Linked DNA regions of Homo sapiens. The protein of the gene in region 1 interacts with the protein of each later gene in a pairwise test. Each region holds a gene or a part of one and is shown in the gene's direction. Other genes may lie near its edges.

What was found.
Region 2: the proteins of LZTFL1 (region 1) and PELI2 interact in binary tests that used the Homo sapiens proteins (3 or more experiments, as listed by UniProt).

The regions. Positions count from the first base shown.
Region 1 is NC_000003.12:45,821,140-45,832,942, reverse strand, and holds the end of LZTFL1 (leucine zipper transcription factor-like protein 1), read left to right. Parts: intron 1-1,804; coding exon 1,805-1,870; intron 1,871-1,952; coding exon 1,953-2,030; intron 2,031-4,327; coding exon 4,328-4,504; intron 4,505-5,483; coding exon 5,484-5,587; intron 5,588-6,610; coding exon 6,611-6,629; 3' UTR 6,630-9,627; downstream 9,628-11,803. UniProt on the Homo sapiens protein: Regulates ciliary localization of the BBSome complex. Together with the BBSome complex, controls SMO ciliary trafficking and contributes to the sonic hedgehog (SHH) pathway regulation. May play a role in neurite outgrowth. May have tumor suppressor function.
Region 2 is NC_000014.9:56,118,711-56,130,513, forward strand, and holds part of PELI2 (E3 ubiquitin-protein ligase pellino homolog 2), read left to right. Parts: coding exon 1-27; intron 28-1,025; exon of another isoform or gene 1,026-1,152; intron 1,153-11,803. UniProt on the Homo sapiens protein: E3 ubiquitin ligase catalyzing the covalent attachment of ubiquitin moieties onto substrate proteins. Involved in the TLR and IL-1 signaling pathways via interaction with the complex containing IRAK kinases and TRAF6.

The DNA.
Region 1 (11,803 bases):
AGTCCATTGCAGTAGTTTTACTTGATGGTACCCCATGGGCCAGAAGAGGGCATACTTAACCTTCTAGAGAGCCTGAAGTAGCTCCTGATCACACCTTTTCAAGGTAAAGTGAAGAGCATGAAATTTTGGACAGCGTTTATTGATGGACATTTAAAGTTTGTGATCTGCGGTAACAAGGAGAAGGGTTTTTAAGTTTATAAAAATTATTTATCAATTAGCCGGGTGTGGTGGTACGTGCCTATAGTCAGAGCTACTCGGGAGGCTGAGGCAGGAGAATTGCTTGAACCCGGGAGGTAGAGGTTGCAGTGAGCTGAGATCACGCCACTGCACTCTAGCCTGGGCGACAGAGCGAGACTCCATCTCAAAAAAAAAAAAAAATTATTTATCAGCACAGGTTGAGTATCCCTTATCCTTGGGACTAGAAGTGTTTTGGATTTCAGATTTTTGAATATTTGCATTATACAGACCCCAGTTGAGCATCCCAAATCCAAAAATCTGAAATCTGAAATGCTCCAATGAGCAGTTTCTTTGAGCATCATGTCAGCACTCAGAAAGTTTCTGATGTTGAAGCATTTCAGATTTCAGCTATTTTTCATGACCCTTGTATTCTCAACATTATGCTAGATGTTGTTAGAAATAAAAAGCAGTGTAATACCTGCTCCCTTGCCCTCAAAAATGTAATAGTTTGGGTTTTTTATTGTTGTTTGTTGGTTTGTTTTTTTGAGACAGAGTCTTGCTCTGTCGCCCAGGCTGGAGTGCGGTGGCGTGATCTAGGCTCACTCCAAGCTCCACCTCCCGGGTTCACGCCATTCTCCTGCCTCAGCCTCCGAGTAGCGCCTGCCACCACGCCCGGCTAATTTTTTGTATTTTTAGTAGAGATGGGGTTTCACCATGTTAGCCAGGTTGGTCTTGATCTCCTGATCTTGTGATACGCCCGCCTCGGCCTTCCAAAGTGCTGGGATTACAGGTGTGAGCCACCGTGCCCGGCCAAAAATGTAATAGTTTTATTGGGAAAGTAGAACTGATGTTCTAGAAATAGAGACCAGAGAATATTCTCCTGTGTGCTACAGGTGTCATACTGGGTAGCAGAGAAGACTCAGTTGTGTGTGGATAACAGTAGGTGAGAACAGGCTCTTGGGTAAAGGGGTACCTAAGCTGGGCCTTGAAGGATGAAGACCAGTTAAATTGTAGAGGAAAGAGAAGTGAGTGTGTTGGGCAGGAGAACAGAACAGGCAGTGGTCAGACAGGAGGCGGCATGACTTGAAACAGAGTGCAGTGCCCTCTGACTGGGCTGATGTGTTTATTTGAGTCTACTGAAAAATAACACAGATGATTCAAATGTTTGAGCTGTATAAGAACAAAAGTGTTTGGCCTCACCTCAGTCAGAAGCATCTGTGGGCTTGAGCATGGTACTGAAGTGAAGGAGTTCTCAGGATAAGGGGCAACAGTGTGCAGTGTAGGCTGAGAATAGACCCAGGATTTGCAGGACCAGCTAGGAGAAAGTTGGCAGGGAAGCGGGTCTTTGGAAAAAAATTTGAAAACAGAAAACAGAGGACTGAAAGAGGGAAGATGTGTCTGAGAAACTGAAAGAAAAGAAACTAGATGTCTTAGATCCAAAGCTGACTCACAGATACTGAGGCTGATAGGCTGGATGAAATTGGGATATTACCAAAATATCAGTAGTACATTTTTGAGCTATTATGTAATTTAAATTTAAAAATTAGATTTTTAAGTGAAACAAGTAATAATTTCAAATATTAAAATATTTTGGTTAATATAATAAAATTTGAATTTACTCACAAAGGAAATTTTAAGACTTCAAGAAGAGAATGAGAAATTGAAGTCAAGGTTGAAGACCATTGAAATACAGGTAACTGAGAAATGTTTTGACACAATTATTGAACTGCCTACAGATTAAATACTGAAAGTGTTTTGTTTAAACTTCACTATAGGCTACAAATGCACTGGATGAAAAGTCAAAACTAGAAAAAGCACTGCAAGATTTACAGCTTGATCAAGGAAATCAAAAGGTGAAACAAGTTTTAGCTACCTTTCTCACATTTTCTAAGTAGAATGAAGTTATAAACTTAAAATTAAGTCTTAGTTACTGCTCACTGTACCCCACCCCTGCTACTCCCTGAGACAAATGCCTCTATTGTCATGTGTTGGGACATTCTTGCCCCCAAAAGGCCTGGTGAGAACCAGTGACCTTCCCTCTGTCCATCCTCTAGGGCAGAGGGGACAGTACATAGCTCACACACCTGCAGTTTCCCTGGCATGCAAGATATTCTCACATTTATTTTTTAAGTTTTTCTACAATCTTCCTGGTATGCAAGATATTCTCACTTTTTTTTTTTAAGTTTCCCCTCTCACTTTGACATCCAATTACAGTGGAGGGGAAAGAAAATGAAAAGAAAAGTTTTTAATTGGTTTATATTTGGGTTTTATTATACTGAACATTACTTAAGTTTGCCTTTGATGAGTGTGACAAAATGATTATGAATCTGCAGATGCGTCTGTACCCGCCGGCACCATAGAGTACAATGAAATCCAGTGTTGTAGTTCTTCATGCTTGTCTGAATGTAATGACTGAATGTCACTCCGCCTGCGGGAAGTCATTGTATGTACAGTCTGTCTCCTGTGGACTTTCTGTTGAGTGTGCATGCTGCAGTATGATTTCCTGTGAGCAGGACCATTTGGGTAGATATTCAGTACAGCATTGGCTTTTCTAGTGGTCATACTCTCATTGCAAATGTCTGGTAAACAAACCCAAAATCTGCTTCACTGGGCTTTTGCTAATCTTTTCTCTATGAAAAATTTCAAACATACACAAAAGTAGAGAGAATAGTATAATGAACCCCCATGCACTCTTCACTCTATTTAGCAGTTACCAATGCATGGCCAGTCTGGTTTCATTTGTACCTCTACTTTCTTCTTCCCACCAGCCATGTTTTTTTGAAGCAAATCTCAGACGTTGAACCATTTTATCTGTAGATATTTTTAAAATAGGAGGATACTTCTTATATAGCTAATGATTTTCAACCATTATATGCCAATGACAATAGATTTATAAAAACACGAATGTTCCAGAACCGCTTTATAATTTCTCCTAAGTCAAACAATTGCAAACACATGTGGCTGATGAATTTGTTTAAAAGCTTTTTGGGGCTTTGCTCCAATTTTACTTTAAGATTTTGGACACAAGAACAACCAGTGAATACGTGCTTTTATTAGTTGCAATGAAAATCTTTTTTTCAAAGACCAGATTTCAAAAATGAGGAAAGATTTTTTTTTTCTTCTGTTGAAAGTACTTTTTTTTTTTTTTTTTTTTTTTCTTTTGAGACAGGGCCTTATTCTGTTTCCCATGCTGGAGTGCGGTGGTGCAACCATGGCTCACTACAACCTTGACCTCACCGGCTCAAGCGATCCTCCCACCTCAGCCTCCCAAGTGGTTGGGACCACAGGCATGTGCCACCATGCCTGGCTAATTTTTTATATTTTTTGTAGAGACGGGGTCTTGCTCTGTTGCCCAGGCTGGTCTCAATTTCCTGGGCTCAAGTAGTCCTCCTCCCTTGGCCTCCTAAAGTATTGGAATTACAGGCGTGAGAGCCACTTGAAAGTACTAAGTATTTCTTCATCTACATATTAACCAATTGTAGACCATTTTACTGTCTTATCAGTACAAATGTTTTTTCTGTCATGAATCTTATCCAGTCAAAAACAAGATCCAGGAAGAGAGAAGATCCAGTGCCTGTCTTATGCTATAGTTGTCAAAGTATGCAAAAATTACACATATCTCATGAATATAAAAAACTTAAAATCTTAAAAATTTAGAAAACCATGTAATCAGTAATTGTGCTCTCATATTATTTCCTTGTAAATAATGACTAAAACATATGTCTATTAAGTTTTTGGTATAAATTATATTACTTTTATCATTTTTTCTATCATTTTGAAGAATTCAAACTTCTTTGAGGATTTTTTTAAATTTGGCTTTTCAAAATGAAACCTGTTTGCCATCTCAACCCTGGTACACACATCTTGGATGGAAATACCAGCAGTTCACAAATCATATTTTATGTATTTGGAATTCAGTGGCTACTGAGTGTCGGCTGTGTGCAAGACACCACGTACCCAGGGCTGACAATGGACTGGCCTGCTGGTGACTCTGAAGGGGCTGGCACTTACCTAGGCTGGCAAGGGAGGCTGGCATGCACACAAAACATACATCATTTTTTTCATCTCCTATGATGTTGAATCACCATTCTAAAACAGTTATTTTTAGAATATCAACATGAAATTACATGCATGCATTTATTTTTCATAGGATTTTATAAAGGCCCAAGACTTAAGTAACTTAGAAAACACTGTCGCTGCCTTAAAGAGTGAGTTTCAGAAGACACTTAATGACAAGACAGAAAACCAGAAGTCACTGGAGGAGAATCTGGCGACAGCCAAGCACGATCTACTCAGGGTTCAGGAGCAGCTGCACATGGCTGAAAAGGTCAGAAGACCATGTTTAAGGGATTTGTCTGTTAATGCATGATTAATGCACACAGTATAGAGGAATACATGTGGCTAAGATAAACGTTGGACAACTGCAAATTCAGATTATTTTTTCTCAAGGTATTAGCCAATATGTTCTAAAGATTAATCATTTCCGGGCACTGATATTCTTCCATCTTTGGTACTAAAATATCTGTGATAATAAGACATCTCCTCTCCCTCTATGGTGTAGTGAAATGCTCCTCTGTAGGTGGCTTGAATCCTGCCCTACATCCCACCATGTTGCTCTTCTGCTCCTTCTTCCCACAGCCTGCAGAGGGATGAGGGACTGTTTTTTTTAAGGACTTCTATACTTTTGTCATAATTTATATAAAATATGTAGAGAGCTAGATTCTTCACTTTGGGGATTAGACTCTTAAGAATATGGGAGTTGAGGCCGGGTGCAGTGGCTTGTGCCTGTAATCCCAGCACTTTGGGAGGCCAAGATGGCAGGATTGCTTGAGCCCAGGAGTTCAAGACCAGCCTGGCCAACATAGCAAGACCCCCATCTCTATAAAAAAATTAAAAATTTTTTCATATAAAAAATGGGAAAAAAGAATATGGGAGCTAAAATTTAACTAAATTAAAAATCATTTTGCTAAAATACACTACTATGGGACTTGGGAAAAAAGTGTGCTTATTTTACAGGAAAATTAGTTTAATATTTCAAATAGATTTATCATATCCAGGGCTTGAGTTATTTACCAACACTGTACTTGGGAAAATGTTACTATTTTATGGCTTCTCATTTGAAAGAATATATTTTTAAAGTTTGGATAGTCTTAGTTTTATATAAATGTGTCCTTTAAGGAAATTAGAAAATCATTAGCAAAATACTAGTAAAATTCAAGCAAAAAAAACTACATATTTTTATCGCATTTGTTATCTCTTTCCTTAACTATTTTTTTAGTAATGGGCTGACATTTTTTACTAAGCAGGAATTAGAAAAGAAATTTCAGCAAACAGCAGCTTATCGAAACATGAAAGAGATTCTTACCAAGAAGAATGACCAAATCAAAGATCTGAGGAAAAGACTGGCACAGTAAGCCACACTGATCCCGCCTTTGGATTTCTCTCTCTGGATTGATGTTTGTTCTCTGTTAAATCTAAGCTTGTTCCAGAGAGGTCAAGCCGGTGGTAGTTGCTGGATCATTTAGTCCAGAAGCCTTCATTTGAGGAAAGTGGAGGAGCTCTGGCCTGACCTTATCTATAATGCCCACCAGGGCTTCTTTTTAGGTTCATCTAGGCCTTTAGACTCACACAGGCCTACAGTAAGCTGCTCTTGGCAATGGATTCACTTAGCAGGATGTCAGACAGGAAACACAGCAAGCTCGCAGGGCAGCATTAGGTAGTTCTCTTCTCCTTGGTGGTATACTCTAAGCAGTCCAAGAACTGGTCTTACTGTTCCCCTAAATGACAGTTTAAGTTGGAGAGAATGAGATTCATGCAGATGGGTGTCATAGCCAGCTTGGCTTAGAAGTCCGTGTTCTACATAGGATTAGTATCTCTCTTAGCAGTCACATGATACCCAGTTAAGGGTATGTCCAGTTAAAAGAACTCATCGCACAGGGGGAAACCTAAAGTGGTGGCTCCCACCATGTATTTATAGTTCATTCATAGTCCTCCAGGTCCAGATGTGGTCATCAGATGTTTTGCCTGGAAACTGAGTTGACATTTTACCTTTATCAGAGTTCCAGGGGAGCAGAGCTAGAAAGGGAATTCAAGGTGAGATTTGTCCTTAGAGAAGTAGATTTGCTAGCCCTTTACTCATATAGTCGTATCAACTGTTCTTGTCAACATGATGATTGAGGTAATTATATGAAGTTATCACAGGTCTAAATGCCAAATATACAGACTTGGAGCCTTAGCAGTGATCTGGCCTATCCTCCTACCTGATGTAAAAATCCCCTCTGAGTCACCATCAAAACAAAGTTGAATGTGTCCAACTTCTACCGTAACAGTAATTTGAAGTGAGAAATATAGTGCCACTGCTTCAAGTAAACTTATTTGGTAATAACAACAACAAAAGGTATCCTGACATTGTGTTCTTAATTTATATCTCCAGATATGAACCTGAAGATTAAAACTGAAGATTTCCTCTGGAAGCTACCACATGCAAACATACAAGCAGTCTCACCTCAGGCATGTATTTTGAAAAGCATTTTGTCATATCCCCTCTCCTTATTTTTCTAATATTTAGACTTTGAATATTTAGAACTAGAGTTCCTATTTTCAGCTAGTTGAAAACAGAGAAAACCTAGTGATTCTGTCTGGTCATCCCACACACCTCTCTACTGAGTGCTCCAGAGTCTTAGCTCACATGCACTGAGAATTCTTTACAGCAAAGAAGAGATTTTTAGAGTGGGAAGAAGAGGCTTATCCTTCTGCATTAGTATAAAGAGTCTGTATTTTTAATAAATGTTAAATAAGCTAACAATGTTTGTACTTATGCATTCCCCATGGGTAAAAATAAATAATAGCATTGTTAAAGATAGTTATTACCAAAAAAAGAGAGTTATTACAAATAAATATGTCTCTTTATTTTTAAAAATGAAATCTTAATTCATTTACTCTATTTGATGATAAACTATAAATTCATTGAAAATGTGAATTCTATTATGGGTAGCCTTTTTACCAATTATAAGGAAAATTTACAGCAGTGAACATGAACATTCACTTAGCTTCCTCAGTCTCTCCATCTTAAAGATCATTTATCAGAGGAGGTTCAGCATTTTTTGCAGCATAACTTTTCATGAGTCTGTATTACTAATGGATAAGTCAAATCCATCCTGCACTTCTACAGTTTAGAAAGTATCTGGACTCAGAATAAATGTAATATTTATACTTGTTTCCAGAATGTTATTTTACATTTTATGTTCAATAAGAACACTTTTTAAAAGACGTATATTCAACATAAAATCAGCTATCAGACTTCAGATTAGACTTTATTTATGTGGGTCTATAATAATTGTATTTTCAAGAGGTTTTCACTATATTTGTATTGGCCTGGTTTTCTCAGACGATTTTGGACAAATCATTAGAAACTGGGCATCATATCCACAGTTATGTAAGGCAGTGATATACTATAAGGATAAACAAAGTCAAGTCCATAAAGCAATAATCCCTCAGAAGGAAAGTCCTTACTTTTCACATATTAATATTTAGTAATTTTTCCTGCTTCTAAAAGTGAGAGTATCACACCCTAAATGAACACTGTCTACTAAGAGACATCATTCCATTTCCACAAATGAAGATTTTATTCCAAGAAACGAGTTTACTGATTGGAGCATAGGGCTTGTTGTTATTTTTATTCAAGCTTTTAGTAATAGCCTTGAATTTATTATTTTTCTTATAGGCTTTTTGTTAAAATAGTGAAGGAACAAATGTTAAAGGGTAAGATAATTTCCCTGCAAAAGGACACAGAAGGCAGTCTTAAGAAGATGAATGGATGAGAGAAGGGAGAGAATAAAATGCAATAACGAGCCAGCATTTACTATGTATTTTCTCCTCACCTGTCTCTCCATATTTAGGTCACTTACCAGTTTCTGTGCCCTTTTGGAGCTTTTGTTGAGGGCTTCATTCTCACCCTGTATTTCTTTAGCCCTAAATTGACACTCTCTCCAAAAATCCATTCCATTGTCTGTGGACCAAGATGTTCTATGTAATTCAGAAGCAGAACTCTTGGCTAAAGGGCTAGTGTGGCCTTCAGAAACCATTCAATTATTTTCTCCCTACACCTTTGTCAGTTTGAAACCAGTGAGGAAAAAAGGTATGTTGATAAGAAACCTATATTGCTAGGTAGAATTTGTACTTGTTTTCTTGGTAGCAGTTTTGAAATATTCTGTACAGTACGTTCCTATTGTTTAATAATAAATTCAAAAATATTTCTAAAACCTTAAAACCAACTATGCCAAGCATTAAGATAAACAAATATGATGTTCTTTGACGTAAATCAACGTGATGATTCTTTCACATGTAAACACATTTTAGTGTTTCTGGTTTGTCATTTTTGTTGTTGTTGTTGTTGTTGTTATTTACTCTATACCCTTTAGCAAAATACAGTTTTAAATTTTTATTGTTTTTAGTAGTTTCCCAACTTTAAGACTTATCTAATTTAACTGAGAAAGAAAGCCTTTTTCATATATATATATATTGGATTTCTAAGGATGGTGGTTTGAGCCTTGATTAGACTTTTGATGTGCTAAGCCAGACAGGCAGTCTGTACATTGATGGCCATCACAATGCAGCTTTGGTTTAATTTAATTCAGGCCTGCTGCTGAGTTATGCACAGACTTTTTGTTGACCAAAATAAAATATAAAGGGTTTTCTTCTGTTTGACATTTGTGTTCATTTTTTCTCTTTATGTATTACATTTTAACCTATATTAAATAAATGTTTAAATGATAATTTGCTTATGTCTTATAAAACTCAGCATAAGAAAAATACTGCCCTACCTTGACTGTGTAATCTTATTTGATAAAGCCTTTGCTATTCATTATTTCCATTCTGATTAACTGAAAGAGATTTATAGAGATGCTCAAATTTTAAGCCCTTGGTGCTTTTAGATATATATTGGTTGCAAAAGTTTGGCATTAATGATTTCCCTCTGCTTATGTGTAAATGCCTATGTTCCAAAGCTTTGCCACTAGATATTCAAATCATAAATTGTCATGTAAGCCAGTCTTCCAGAAAGAAAAGCTATTTCAGCAAAATGATATTTCACATTTAGACAAAACAGTAGTATTTAGACAATAATATTTTGACAAAACCATTTTCAAAACTGCTTAGGAAAAAGGGGAAATATTATACTTAAAGGTAATGACCTCTGTCTTGAATAGAGGTGAGTGGGTTGGTGACAACTGGTTTGGAGGCTTTTGTGGGGGACTGTGGTGTCTTTTGGATTGTGTCATCAGCTCCTTCATCAAGTAAGCGTGTAGCTGTTATTGCCTATTGTAAAACATGAATTGATGTGAACAGTACTCAATCTCTTACATTATATGAAGTATAACTTCCTCTCTTTTTTGCCTATAATACATCCTTTAACTTTTACAGATTAAAAAACCACTGTTAGACAAAGCAAAATGGAACTTGGAAAATCCTTTATAGTTTTGTAAAATAACAATGGGCTTACTGTCAAATTAACTAACAGCTTATTAAATGGATTTTCATGAGCACTTGGAAAAGAAACATAACCACCAGGAGCCAGCATGGATCTCCCTAGTAAGAAATCAGGTATGGCAGGGCCAGTCGCGGTGTCTCATGACTGTAATTACAACGCTTTGGGAGTTCCAGGCAGGGGGATCGCTTGAGGCCAGTAAGTCAAAACGAGCCTGGCCAATATCGCAAGACCCCATCTCTACAAAAAATTTAAAAATTAGCTGCACATAGTGGCATGTGATCACATGATACGGCAGACTAAACTCGTTTGTCTTTTTTTTTTTTTTTTGAGACAAGAGTCTCACTCTGTTGCTCAGGCTTGAGTGCAGTGGCGTGATCTCAGCTCACTGCAAGCTTCACCTCCCAGGTTCAAGCCATTCTCCTGCCTCAGCTTCCCGAGTAGCTGGGACTACAGGCACCTGCCACCATGCCTGGCTAATTTTTTTGTATTTTTAGTAGAGACGGGGTTTCACCATATTAGCCAGGATGGTCTCGATCTCCTGACCTCATGATCCGCCCACCTTGGCCTCCCAAAGTGCTGGGATGACAGGCGTGAGCCACTGCGCCCGGCCTCATTTGTCTTTTTAAAAGCATGAGAGGTATAGTATGTCAGAATTTCAGCAAGGTGCTTGACAAAGACCTCATGATAGTCTTGTTGAAAAGAATCGTAGGTGGGTTTTCCCAAATGTAGACTATAGGATAAGGATTTGGGTGCAGGTAGTTTATTTGGGAAGTGATTTCAGGAAATCCCGCGGAAGACTGAGGAACTGAGACAGATCGAAAGAGTCACCACTATGGGCAACTGGGACCCAATCCTGCTGGGGACCCTCTGAGACATGGTACAGAAAACATCTCTGAATTATTACACTGAAGGACAAGGTAGCTGGGAATATTATCCACCACTTTCCATCCCTCACTGGTTGAGGTTAGAAATCTGAGGTATTAATTCCTTGCCATGTCCAGCCTGCCTGGATGTAGACCAAATTCCAGAGAATGCTCTCAGGCAAAGAGACTCCTCCAGAAGCCAAGCATGGGAACTGTCTGCTTGCAAACTCAGGAGTAGATGGGGAGTGACTGTTAATGGGTCCTGCATTTCATTTTGAGGGTATGAAATGTTCTGGAATTAGATAGTTGTAATAGTTGTACAACTTTGTGACTATACTAAAAATCACTGAATTGTATACTTTAAAATGATAAATTTTATACGTAAGTTATATCTCAATTAAAAGAAAAGAAAACCTCTGGGAATAGATGAAGGGGATATGTTGAAGTAATCACCAGCATCTCCAGCCATCCACTCCGCTCTACTGTACCACCTGGTGTCCCATGTTAAGTTCACTTTCTCTCGAGGATAATGGTTGGTCACAATATTTTTAAAACAATGAATACAAAAAGGAAAACATCAACGAAAAGCTTAGTGGGACAGGCTGTAGTCCTCTCTGTTGCATATTGGTCCTGAAGCCATAATTAACATTTATCATCTCCCTCTTCTACTTATTCTAGATTCCCCTCACCCTCAACCAGCACTTTTGCTGGTCAGCATGGCTGGCCTCATGAGATGACCTAGACTTTCCTTTCTTAGATGTCTGAGCCCCTGATCATTTTGCCCCTGTCCTGCTGTATTTGTGAAATTTCCCATTTATTGTTACCCCCACATATCACCAAGAGGTACCCCTACACTACAGCCTGAACCATAGAGAGGTACAAAGCCCTCCTAACTGTGTACTCAAAACTTGCAGCCTTCTGAGTGACCCAAGAAATGGTCAGAGCAATATTCCTAAGTGTTGTACATGCTGACTTCAGAATCCAGATAATACTACCTAGTGCTTACCTCTCTTAGTAGTAGAAGGTACAAAATGCAATAACTGGCTCTTGACTTGGCAGGATGTCCCAGTATTCCCTAGATTGTTGGACCTCTGACCTCTGAATCTTTGTAGGAATTACCTCCTTCTCTCTGGTGCATGTGTCATAAGGAACACTCAGATTATTTGCCAGTTCATTCCTGTTCACTAGGTCCAGTTAACATTTTGTCATCAAAGTATTGGACCAGGATGATGTTCTACAGAATGTCACGATGATCAAGGACTTCTTTGGACAGTTT
Region 2 (11,803 bases), on another chromosome or scaffold:
GAAATACGGGGAGCTGGTGGTGCTCGGGTGAGTCCTGGGGTCCCTGGTCCCGGGCAGCGGCGCGGGCGGGGAGCGCCCGCATCCTGGAGCGGGGCTGGCGGGGTGGCTCGGTGCTCTTTGGGGACCGCCGGGGCGCTCGGGGCGGCAGGAGAGGCTCTCAGGGCCCGGACGGCGGCGCGGGGGCGGGATGCGCCCCATCGGCGCGCGCTCGGGGTGCTGCGGCGGACGCCGGGCTGCGCTGTCCGCGCGGAGGACGCGGCGGAGGAAGTGGCCAGAACTCGGGCGACCCAGCGGGGGCAGCGCCGGGCACCGGGTCCGCGGCCGTATCGTGGGGGCGGGGGCAGGGGCTCCACTTCCCGCGCGCCGCGTCCGGGCCGGGGAGGGCGGGCAGGGACTCCATGTGAGGCGCCGCGGTCGCGGGCGCTTCGCGGGGTCGCTTCCCGAAGCTGAGAGGCCGGCCGGCGCGGAGCCCCGTCTTCCCACCTCCCTCGCGGACCGTGGTACCCGCGCCCCCGAACTCCGAGCGCGGCGCCGTGAGCTTGGGCCGCCGCGGGCTGTGGGATCCCCGGCTGCGCTTTGCAAATTGTTCCGATGACCGCCGCGGGCCGCCGCAGCCCGAGAGCAGTGAACTGTGTGTGACCCGGGCCGGCCGGCCCTCCGCTTCTCCCCGCTTGGAGTGCTCTGGAGGGGAGGGACAGGATGCGGCTGCTCGGGGCCTGGCACCGGGGCGCGGGCCGTATCCCCCCGGTCCCGGCCTCGCTGATGCCCTCCCGGCTGCGGGGAGCTCGCCAGCCTCGCCCGCCTCGGCTCCCTCTCTGCTGGTGAAAGCCGCATCTTGAAGATAGTAATTATGTACAATCGTTAAACGGCAGCAATTAGAGACTTCATCTACTTCCTGAGTTTCCTTGTGACATTTCTATTGTTTACCCTTAATAAGCCAGGAGAGAGGCTTTGCGGGCTTAAAACTGGATATAGTGGGCAGTGAAAGGGGAGGGGGAAGGGGGAAGTGCAGGAAACTGGGGGGAAGGAACAACTTGGGTTTAGTGTTGAAGAAAGGATTATTTTTTCCTTTGGATGTGTCGCTCTGGGAACCCGCGCTTTTGTCCTTCTGCGTTGAAAGACCTGTATTCAGAACATCCTCGGCGCTGATAGGTAGGCTTAGCACACATATGAGGAGTCATGGCTGTGGGAAGACTCAGGGAACTTTGCAAAACGTGTTTTGATAAGTGAGTGCCTTGAAGTAAGTGCTGACTTAAAAATAATTTAAAGAGAGGAGTTTTTGAGGGAAGCTTCCAGACACCGCACAACTCAAAGCTTCCCAGTCTTCCTGACTTTGTTGCTAGTGCATTAAGTGGGGGTGGTATTGGAAATCTCATTACCTATTTTGAAGCTGTTTGCAGATAAGTGTTTTTCTCACCTACATCTTAATTGCACTTCAAAGACAAATATCAGGGTTCACAGGAAGGCGGGAGGAATGACAGGAGAAAAGCCGCAGTTTAGTCTGTCTTATGTAACTTCAGCCCAACCTAATCTTGTGGAGTTTGGTTTTGTTTGTGTGGCTGGCTTCAGTGTGTTTAACACTGTGAACTTGACGCGGAAGATTAACGTATGCCAGAACTTTATTTCATTATTTCCTTTTGAGGAAATCATTGTTGAGATGTTTCAGAAAAGCAGCGAGTGGGCCTGGAGAGGTTTTGTGTTCATAGCTGGAAGTGCAGGGCATTCCGAAGCCACGGAAAGGATTGAAACCCTGGATTGTCCTAGTATCATAGTCTCACTCCACAGGAGCCCGGGATATAACGTTGCAGTTGCATATGGTCTGCCCTTTGCTAATGCTTTTCCAGGAGACCAAAGTATGACATAGTTGGCACTTAGGGGGCGAGACACTCAACCGTCGTTTGTGTACCTACTCTGTGCCTGTGCTGTTTAGGCATTGCTGATGCAGTGAGAACAGGGAACTTTCCTTTTAGAGTGGAGTGACAGGCATAAACAGAAAGAAACATGCAAATAGAGGAGTAATAAGTGACAATTTCAGGTGCAGCCAAGTTCTGAAGAGGAGTTGATAAACTTGGAGAGTGACTGCTTAGGTGGGTATTGGTTTCTTCGGCTGGAAGGTGAGGGAAGTTCTCTCTGAGGAGGTGAAATGTGAGTAGAGGATGCTAGTCTGGTTTTTGAATACTTGAATTGTGGTATTTTTCTTTTTTCGAGGGTAGGTTTCTGACTGTTTACCAATGTTGAACACATTGAAGAGTGCAGGTGAAAGAGTGACTAGGTAGGAAGATTTTTAGAGAGAACCTTATTCATATTCCACCCTTAGGATTTGAGACAGTGTACTTCATCTTAAAACAACAATAACATTCACATAGAATTAATATCATCTTTATGATATTATCTTTATGTCCTCTGGGGTATAAATATTGGAAAACAGAAAATTTCAAGTAGATTTTCTGAATAATGAGATGATTCCTGAGATCTAAAAATGCCTAATATTTGGTATTGATAGAAGCTTTGCTTGTCAAATTCAGTGCTTTTTTTTTTTTTAATGGTTATGTGACTGTCCTTTTTGCTCACTTTCGAATGTCATAGTGAAACATTACTAGGAAATCCTGGAGAGCAGAATGAAGAGCTGATAGATGTCTATATCCATATCTAAATACTTCTATATCTTTTTGTGTGTTACACAGTATTATTAAGAGATTCCACATAGCTAGGATTTTAGTGAGCTCATCACTTTCTGGGCTGATTAGTGGAATTTAATTATTTCATGATTCCAGCCAGTTAATGTATCATAGCCACAACTCTTTGTTGTGTCCACTACTTAACTGAAGGTAGAGAAAAATGACTGGTCTAACCAGCAGGTCTTTTTGCTATAATTTTAAACTTACGTTTTAAGGTTAGGGAAGTGGCTCAGGATTTGAGAGGCAGTTTGGTATAGTGGGAAGAACATGCATTTACAGGTGGGTGACCTGAATAAGCCCTTCTCTCTTGCTGACTGGCTCTGTGACTTTGGCTTAATTCCTCCTCCTCCTCTCTGTTTCTTTATCAATTTGCAAAATATGATTGGATTAGGTAGGCTTCAAGAGCCCTTCCTGGTCTGTGCTCAGTAATTCTGTTCATTGGCGCAAATGTAGAAACTATTTAGTTACATATTCTAAGTTCCCTGACAGTTGTTTTAATAGCAGAAAAGATCAATGCTGTGGTTGTTTTTTATGAAGATGTGCGTAAAAACAGAATGTTTAAAAAAGTTGTAATGATATACATCTGTTTGACTCATTGGTGTTAGGTTACCCATGGGAGCATTTAAATTGTGTAAAACTTTATGTTCCAAGTTTAAGAAAGACAGTGATGTTTTGAAATTTAGCTAAATAGACTGAAATAACCAGCATAAAGAGGAGATGATCTCATGATAAAAATTTAGAACTGAATAGCATTAGGGGAAATTCCTAATGTAGATGATGGGTTGATGGGTGCAGCAAACCACTATGGCACGTATGTACCTATGTAACAAACCTGCACATTCTGCACATGTATTCCAGCCTTAAAGTATAATAAAAAAAAATTAGGACTGGAAGGGGGCCTAATGGTCATGGTATATGTTTAGCCCTTATATTTTATTCTTGAGGACACAGGCTCCCAGAACAAGAGAGGTTCAAGTTCATAGTTGATCTGGGCTGAGCTGGGTGGCTGTACTCCCCTACTCTACCCTTTCCTCACTTTAAGACAGATTCCAGCAGCGCTGTCAGTTCCTCAAAGCATCCTTTCTGGATTCAATTTGAAGCATGTGGCTCTCTTGCTGACTAATGGCCCATGGTGGTTTTTGGAAAAATATTGCTTACTCTCTTAGTTCCTCTCACCTCACAGTTGAATGGATAATGCATTTTGCAAGACTTTTTTTTTTTCTTTTGATGCTTCACAAAATGTATTTTTATTGGCTCTCTCAACCAAGGGTTCTTAACCTAGGGTCCACAGATGGAGTTCGGGACATTCTTGAACTTAGATGGGGGAAAAACATGTCTTGATTTTCATGATATTCAAACTGCAGTTTAGCATTTTCATTCACTTATGAGTGTAGGCAACAAAAAGACTTGCTGCTAGATTTTGTTATTTAATGCATTATTACAGAAGTGCACATGTGTATAGCAATTTAAGACTTTTGATATTTAAGTATAAGTGATTCCAATTGTAATCCTTTGTATTTTATTTTGTATGTTTAAAAACATTAGTCTGAGAAGGGCTCATTACATGTCATCAAACTGCCAAAGGGATTCTTGGCACAAAAAGAGGGTAAGAACCTCTACAAATGAAAATTTATAAATATGACTAAATATGACTGAAAAATGAAGTATTTTAGTAGAAATTGATAAGCTCTACAAAAGGAGGTAGATACCTGCCTCATTTCCTTTGGATGATTCAGTGTTTTGTTAGGTAAGACAAAGAGGGGTATAGTAGCTTGTAGAGTTTATGGTCTTTTTTTTTTTTTTAAAAGCAGGTCCCACTTTCTGTATGCTTTTTGTTGTTGCTGTAACCTCAGCACTTTGCCTTGACTACTCCACCCTTTGGTGGCAATAAGAAACCTTCAAATATACCCTAACACTTTTCCTTTTCTCATCCTCCACTCTAATTTGGGCCCAAAGACATCAAACATTAGTATCTTTTATAGACTAAAAGGTCTTTGAACTTTAAAAAAATTTATAAAACAAAATCTTTACTGTAGCTCAGCATGTGGGGTGATCTGAAGAGCTCAGATCTGTTTGTGTGGATGGAGTGTCTAATTCTGTGGGCTATTAAGGGTTACGGTGTTACTGGCTTTGAGTTGCTATATTTTCCTTTACTAACTTTAGCCTTGTTTGGAATATGTGGCTGTCTGTGTTGCTGTGTGGTTTCTGGTCTGGCTTTCTCAGATTTATTTATTTCTCTCTTTAACACACCAAGACTGAAAGCTTCATTAGGTCTTTTCATTTCTGGTTGTGTTTCATCCTGTGATCAATATTTGGGGATGCTGTGTATAAATGAAAGTAAAACAGGCTTGATTCAGGTTCAGTAATTTTACCAAACATTTTATCGAAAAGATAAAATACTTATGCACAAAGGACCAAAACAAAACAAAATAGCCGTTGCTATATTTGAGGAAGACCAATATTGTCACATTGGAGCACTGGTTTTATATCTGCTGTGCAGGGCTTGCAGTGTGGCCTTCCTGAAAGTAGGTATATGGGGTTGTAGGTTGGCTTTTGAATGGAGACAACAGCAACTTGGTAGACCTCATTGGTATGGGAGAAAAATAACTGTGAAAAGGAATTTATAATGTCTTTTGATTTAATTAAACGTTTCTCCTGGGGTGTGCAGAAATCTATTTTATAAAAAGAAAAGTAAAGGTTAGAATAATTCAGTTATTAGTTCTTACTGAGCTTATTGTCACCTTCATCTTCTGGAAAATAAAATAATAAGAGCAGAAAGTGCTTCATATTTCTTAGCTTTGTCTAAATCACCTGTTCTCAACCACTGTCTCAAGTACCTCATATGTGATGATCAGTCTTGAGGGTATGTGGCCAGTAATTTATGACAAGTAATAAAGTGTGGATCTTTCAAATGATTCAGATATGTCATGTTAATAATGTCATTTTTCACCCTTTTGCATTCTGATGTGTTTTCTCAAGTGGGAGAGAAAGGGGTGGAGTTACATCAGGCAAGCCAGGAATGTATGCATTCAGCAAATATTTATTGGCTGTCTACTCTTCCAGGCATGAGGAATACAGCTAGGACAAGGCAGACACATTCCTTTTCCTGGTGAACTGCTCTCTTATTTTTGTCCCAGCCTCTTTGTGAATAACCGTTACTGATACATGGTTCATTTATTTATTCCCCAAATATTTGAGCATCTGCCACTTGTCAGATGCTGTGGATTGCACTAAGGGATACGCAGATGAACAAGACAGTCATGGTCCCTGCTGCTGCAGCACTGACAGCCTAGCTGGAAGACCTGAAGGCTGGGATGGTGGATGTGTTAGCAGGGTCCCCTAGCCATGTGCCAGGATGAGATGGGGATGACCACGATGGAGATAAGAGGGAAGGAGTGCTTTCCGAAGAAGGTTTGGAGTATTCTGCAACCTAGAGATGAAAACGTGCAGCTACTTTGAGGAACAGAGAAACACTCTTTATGGCTAGGAAAGAATGATTGAATGAAACATTGTGAGGGATGATGATGGGGGGATATCATGAAGGGCTTATAAGATATTGGAAGGGGTTTGGACTTTACCCTAAGAGCACAGGAGACTGTCTCAGGGTTTTGCTAGTATGAGATGGGAGTGAAGAAAGCCCTCTGCTCTTTGCAGAGTGGAGTTGGAAGGCACAGTGGAGTTGGAAGGAGAAACTGAGGCTGCAGCCCAACAAGGCAGAGAGAGAATGGAGTGTGAGCTAGAGGGCAGCTGTCTTGCTTCTAGTTCCTGGTTCGGGTACCTCCTGAGACCTAGTTTCGTGTGATTGACCATTCATTCAGTGACTCAAGATACTGACTGAGGACCAGCACTGCTCCCAGCCCTGGGCTACACCAGCAAACAAGACAGACAGCTGCCCTTCCTGCCTGCTTGGAGCTTACCTTTTTTTGAGAGAGGTGAGCAAGCAAAGGAGTAGATAAAAAATGGAACTTCAGAGACTGCTGGGAGGAAACTAAAGCAGGATAAGGAGGAAGAGAGTTATTGGGTGGGCAGGGGGGGGGTGAATTGGCAGGGTGAAATGCTAGGGATAAGGTAGTGGGGGATCCTTTTGGACAAAATAATCAGGAAAAGCTTTTCCGAGAAAATAGTCCTGTGTCCTTTGAGAGTCCCCACTTCTTTCGGTTTTTACTTACTTTTTTTTCTGTTTAAGCCACCTTGAGTGGGTTCTGCTCTTTCAATCAGAAGATTCCAAGTATCCCGTTAAGAGGCAACGTATATAAGCAATTTACTGAAGGGAAAAATAGAAGTGTAAACAAATACAAGGGCAGATAGTTAAGTATCCCTGGACAAAAACGTGGTTCTGCCCTCTGTGCTGCTTGCCATGTGCCCAGAGTGGCCATTGAATTCCACCAGAGCGTATTGCCCCTTGAGGGTAGGAACCTTGACTTCCCCCCTCCTTGGAATGCTGGGCTTCCCTTTCTGGTGCATGTTAGGTACTCACTGAGCCTCTTGGAGAAATGGATTTCTGTGGCACACCCTAGTTTGCCACCCCACATGGAGATGTGGCCAGGGCTTAGTGAATGTTTCTGGACTTGGAAGGAGCACTCTGCTTCTGTAGCACAACTGCAGTTTTGTAAACAATCCTACCAACCTTTAGGGCCCAAGTCAAAGTTTCCCTGAGAAACTAAACATGTGCTTTACTGACATCAGATATTCCAGTTTCAACTTTTGTTTGTTTTTCTTTTTGTCAGTCACCTAGCAGTCATGTTGTCACCTGCAGAAAGTCCTGCCTTGAAGGGAAGCAGGCCATCTGTTCTGATTCCACCAGCTGCTCGGAGCTGCATTGCAGTGCGCCACAGTGGCGTTGAAAGGCTGTGGTCATTAATGCCTATTAATGATGGCTGGAAATACTGTGGCATACAAGCCTCTTGGATGACAGACCTAATAAATATGCATCAGGGGGCATTTTCAGCAGCAGGTTTAAGGCTATTGCGAGTCATTCTCGATTGAGGTTTTCTTTCTAGCCATCCGCATAATGCTTCTCACTCTCAAACACTTCACTCTGCTTATCCCTGCTTTTCTGCTCATGCAGAATCTGTTTTTAGGATAAGAAATCATTGTTTCAAGCTTTGTACTTCCATTCTTATTAGTACTGGTTTAACAGAATTTAACCAGAGCGAGCAGTTGTGTGTTTGGCTTCTAGGCTATTGGTATAAAACGGCTGATCGTGATTACCAAGTGCCTCGGAGGACCTCGGTGGCCCCCCTCCTTTCCCATCTTGTGCTTCCTGCTCCATGATTATAGAACACTAATTATAATCAGAACTGGTGATGGGTGAGCAATTAGGCTTTTCTGGACTGATGATTGATTGATGGATTGATTGATTGATTGCGTTGGGGAAAGGCCCTTCCTGCGGAAGGATTGTAGACACAAAGGAGTGTGCTTTCACACCAGATCCCAGAAAATTATGCTGACTAGATCCTTGATGTAGTACATAAGATTACATTATGGTTTGGGTACTTTCATCACATGCTGTGGATAGAATTCAAAATGCAACCTGACAAGACTGATAGGAAATAAATTCATTAAGTTTTTATTGAGTTGTTTTTTGTCTCCTCGGGTTGTTGATCATTCTAGTGAGCACAATTTCAGCCTTTTTGATGAGTTATTCCAAACATTAAGTACTGTACGGTTTGAAAATCTTAGCTAACAAAAGCATTTTTGGAGTGGCTTTATAATTTATAAGTCATCTGCAAGTCTTTTTGCATTTGTTAATCTCCAATATTATCTGAAATTTGTTGAGAGCGTGGCAGTTGAAGAATAGCCTAGCTTACTGAGAACCATGCTTCTGGCAGACTGGAACATAAGCAGCTTTCACCCAGGAGAGCTAATGCATGACACAGATTTTCAAGCTTTTAAAGGTCACCTGACATGAAATAACAGAACTAACAGAGATTCGAGTAGGTGGGGTAATCTATACAAGCATCCTGCAGGTACAGGATGGTGGAAGGACCAGAAGAATGTTTTAACACTGCATTTGGGTGGTTAAAGGACAGGATGAAGAGCTCATTTATATTGGTTGTACCTGTCTGTGACTGTCGGCAGTAAGAAGGTAGTACAGTTCCTGAAATACTTTATGTCTCCTCCACACCATGGAGAACAGTTCTGTGTTGGTGAGAAGCAAGCCAAGGCAGAAGATGGCTCTTGTGTGGTGCAGTTTACAAAAGAGAGACAAAATTTGATAGCAGCCACTGCTGCCAGCCACCTGCACAGCACTCAGGGTTGGGAGAGCTACAGGCCTAGAATCCACTGGTTACTGCCTCCAGATTGAACACTTTGCCATAGAAAGAAAATGAAAACATTCCTCTAGTAGCTAAAGTGAACGTAACTTCTGAAATTTCCCCAGATTCTGTTTGGGGAATTTTAGCATTTTTCATTTCTAATGAGAGGGACTAAAAGATGTGAAATCAAAACTTTTGCATTCAAAATTGATCAACTGAGTGTAAAAGAAATTTAAATAATTGAACTTCCAGATGATGTTAAGTCTGTTGCTTTTATAATTTTGTTGTTTTTAAAGCTTAAAATTACACTAAGAATTTTGAGATGCATGTGTGTATGTATATATTTTATTGCATGTGTGTTCTGCATGGGTATATTAAAAATGGGATTCATTGATCCTGCACATGGACCCCTGAACTTTAAGATGAAGAAAAAAAAATGGGATTGCCTGTACATACTAGGAATTAAGCACTATCTAAACATACACACTAAACACTGATCATTCAGTTTGTGTTAGGTGATGCTGTTGTTGCTGTTTTACGAGGCTGATTTCACTTCAGAGGACTAGGGGTGGTGGAGCCTACATAAGGAAATGCCCCCCAGGGGTACACAGTCTAAGGGCAAGACAGATGACTTAGCAACAAATCATTAATTAGGGTGTAGCGGGATGGTGGGCGAGAGCTCTGGGCATACTATATGCCAGGTTCCGTTAGGTGGTTTACATTATCCTTTCCAGGAGTTCAAATTTATTATCTGGGCAATGAGGCTCCAGCTTAATGACTTGTCCAAGCTCACTCCCCTAGTTAGTGGGAATCTGATTAGAAGGTAGGTCCTTGTGGCTCTCTTGCTTGATTATTTCCACCAGGGTGAAGGTGAGAGGCATGTGTATTGCTGGGAGATTGGGAAAGATTTCCTGGGGCAGTTGGCCTTTAGCAGAGCCTTGAGAGGTGACCTGGGTTTTTTATAGAGCAGTGGTAGTAAAAGCATGGCGATTTTGGAACCTTGAGGGGTATGGCTGGAGGCTGAAGTACTTGGGGAGGGAGGTGAAGTTGGAAAGTCAGGTTGGGGTATTGTTGGGGTATTGAAATATTTGGGCTAGGGTTATAGTAGGTAATCTCAGAGTGGTCCCTGCCTTCATGGAGCTTACAGTCCATCAAGAAGGAAGCCCTTTAAGCAAACCTGGCAAGGTGCTGCCAAGGAGAAGTACAGGGTTTCGTGTACAGTAGGGGACAAAATTTGTTTTTGGGGGAGGGCAGGTTTTTGTGGGGAGGGAGGGAATTCTATGTCAGCAGAGGTAGAAAGGGTGAGTTAGCTAAGGGTTAGCAAGGGGAAAGCAGAGTACCTGAAGGCACATCGAGAGGTTGAGGGGCTGAGAGGCTGAGGGATATCCAGTGCCTTTGGAATTGAAGGGGTGAGAGGGCCTTTGTGATGAGAGAGACTTGAAAGGAAGGACCTGGGCCCAGTAAAGGCTGTGGCCTCTGGGAGGGGGAAGCCCTGCTAATAACATTTCAAGGCATTATTGCAGACTCTAGGTAGCAGGCAGTGTCAGCCTTCTGAGTAGGTTAGTGAACTAATCCTTAGGACCCAGTCTTGCTTGAAATCTCCAAATAGGCTTGTTTTCCCTTTTGTAATTCATTTCCCTCCTACCTTTGTCTCTCTTCCCCTGCCAAAGAACAGTTGCTCACAATGGGCGTAGCCCCCTTCTGTGCGATGGCAAGGGTGAGGTGAGATAACGTGATCCATTTAATTATTTGGGCACTCAGTGGTTTGATTTTGAAACTTGTGCTGGAACCAGTGAATGTTTTGGGGTTAAACTCCACTGGCAGAGCAGTTAGTGATCCAAGAACTCTTTCCTGTTACCCATTCAGACAACTGTGCCTCTGGAGCCTTGCTTTCCCTGGAGGCCCAAGGGATGGGGTCCTGAGTGCTTTGTCCCCCAAGAAACGAGGAGAAGGACCCATAGCCCTGTGCTCTTTCCTGCATGGGAGGATGCACAGTGTGCCCACCAGCTAGGGGATCGCCCTCAGGAGGCAGAATGGGCTGCTTTTCCTCCAGGCTGTTGTTTCAAGCAGGGATGGACTTGTCCCTCTGCCTTGGGGTCTTGGCTGTCTCTTGCTGAGCTATGGCAGCAATAGTGTGGAGCAGGTGAGGACTGGCATTTAGCCCCCAGACCAGCCCCTCTGAGGGTGTAATTGATCCCATTGCTGGAGAAAAGAGCAGAGCAGATTTCTGGCCTTGCAGTGTTTGCTGCAGGTGGTGGTCTTGGATCACTGAGGGGCTGCCCTGCTTGGCCTGGTCGTGTTCCCATCTCAACTTCTGCCATTTCTTCAGGGTGCTCCTTTTGAATTGAAGTGGAGGTCCCTGGCCAGAACCTGCAGTTAAAAATGATCCTTAAAGAGGAAGCATCGAGATCTGAGTTTTTTTTTTTCTTTTCCTGAGGAGATGAGGAAATTCTGGCTAGACTCTTGCTGCTTAGTGGGTTGGTTCTTCCTGCTCCTTGGGGGAGGTCCCCAGAGGGCTGGCTCCTGAGCCCTGATGGTATCTGTCCTTTATTGAGTGCTGATTCTTAGCTGGGTTCTTTGTAAAGTGCTATTCGTGTGTGGCCTCTTTAAATGTTTAGCAAGGGAGGTAGGTACCATCACTCATCATTTTATGCATGAAACTGAGTCGTGATGCTTGAGAAGCTTGTTCAGGGCCACATGTGACAGAGTGCTGATTCGAACCTAGGTCTTTCTGACTCCAAGTTGTTCAATCCTGCCTTTACTGTGTGTGTTCCAAAGCAGTTTTGTATGTTTTTATTTTGTTTTTTTTTAACCAAACCCTTGCCATACTGGGTATTCTCATTAAACATAGTGGTGTAAAACTTCACT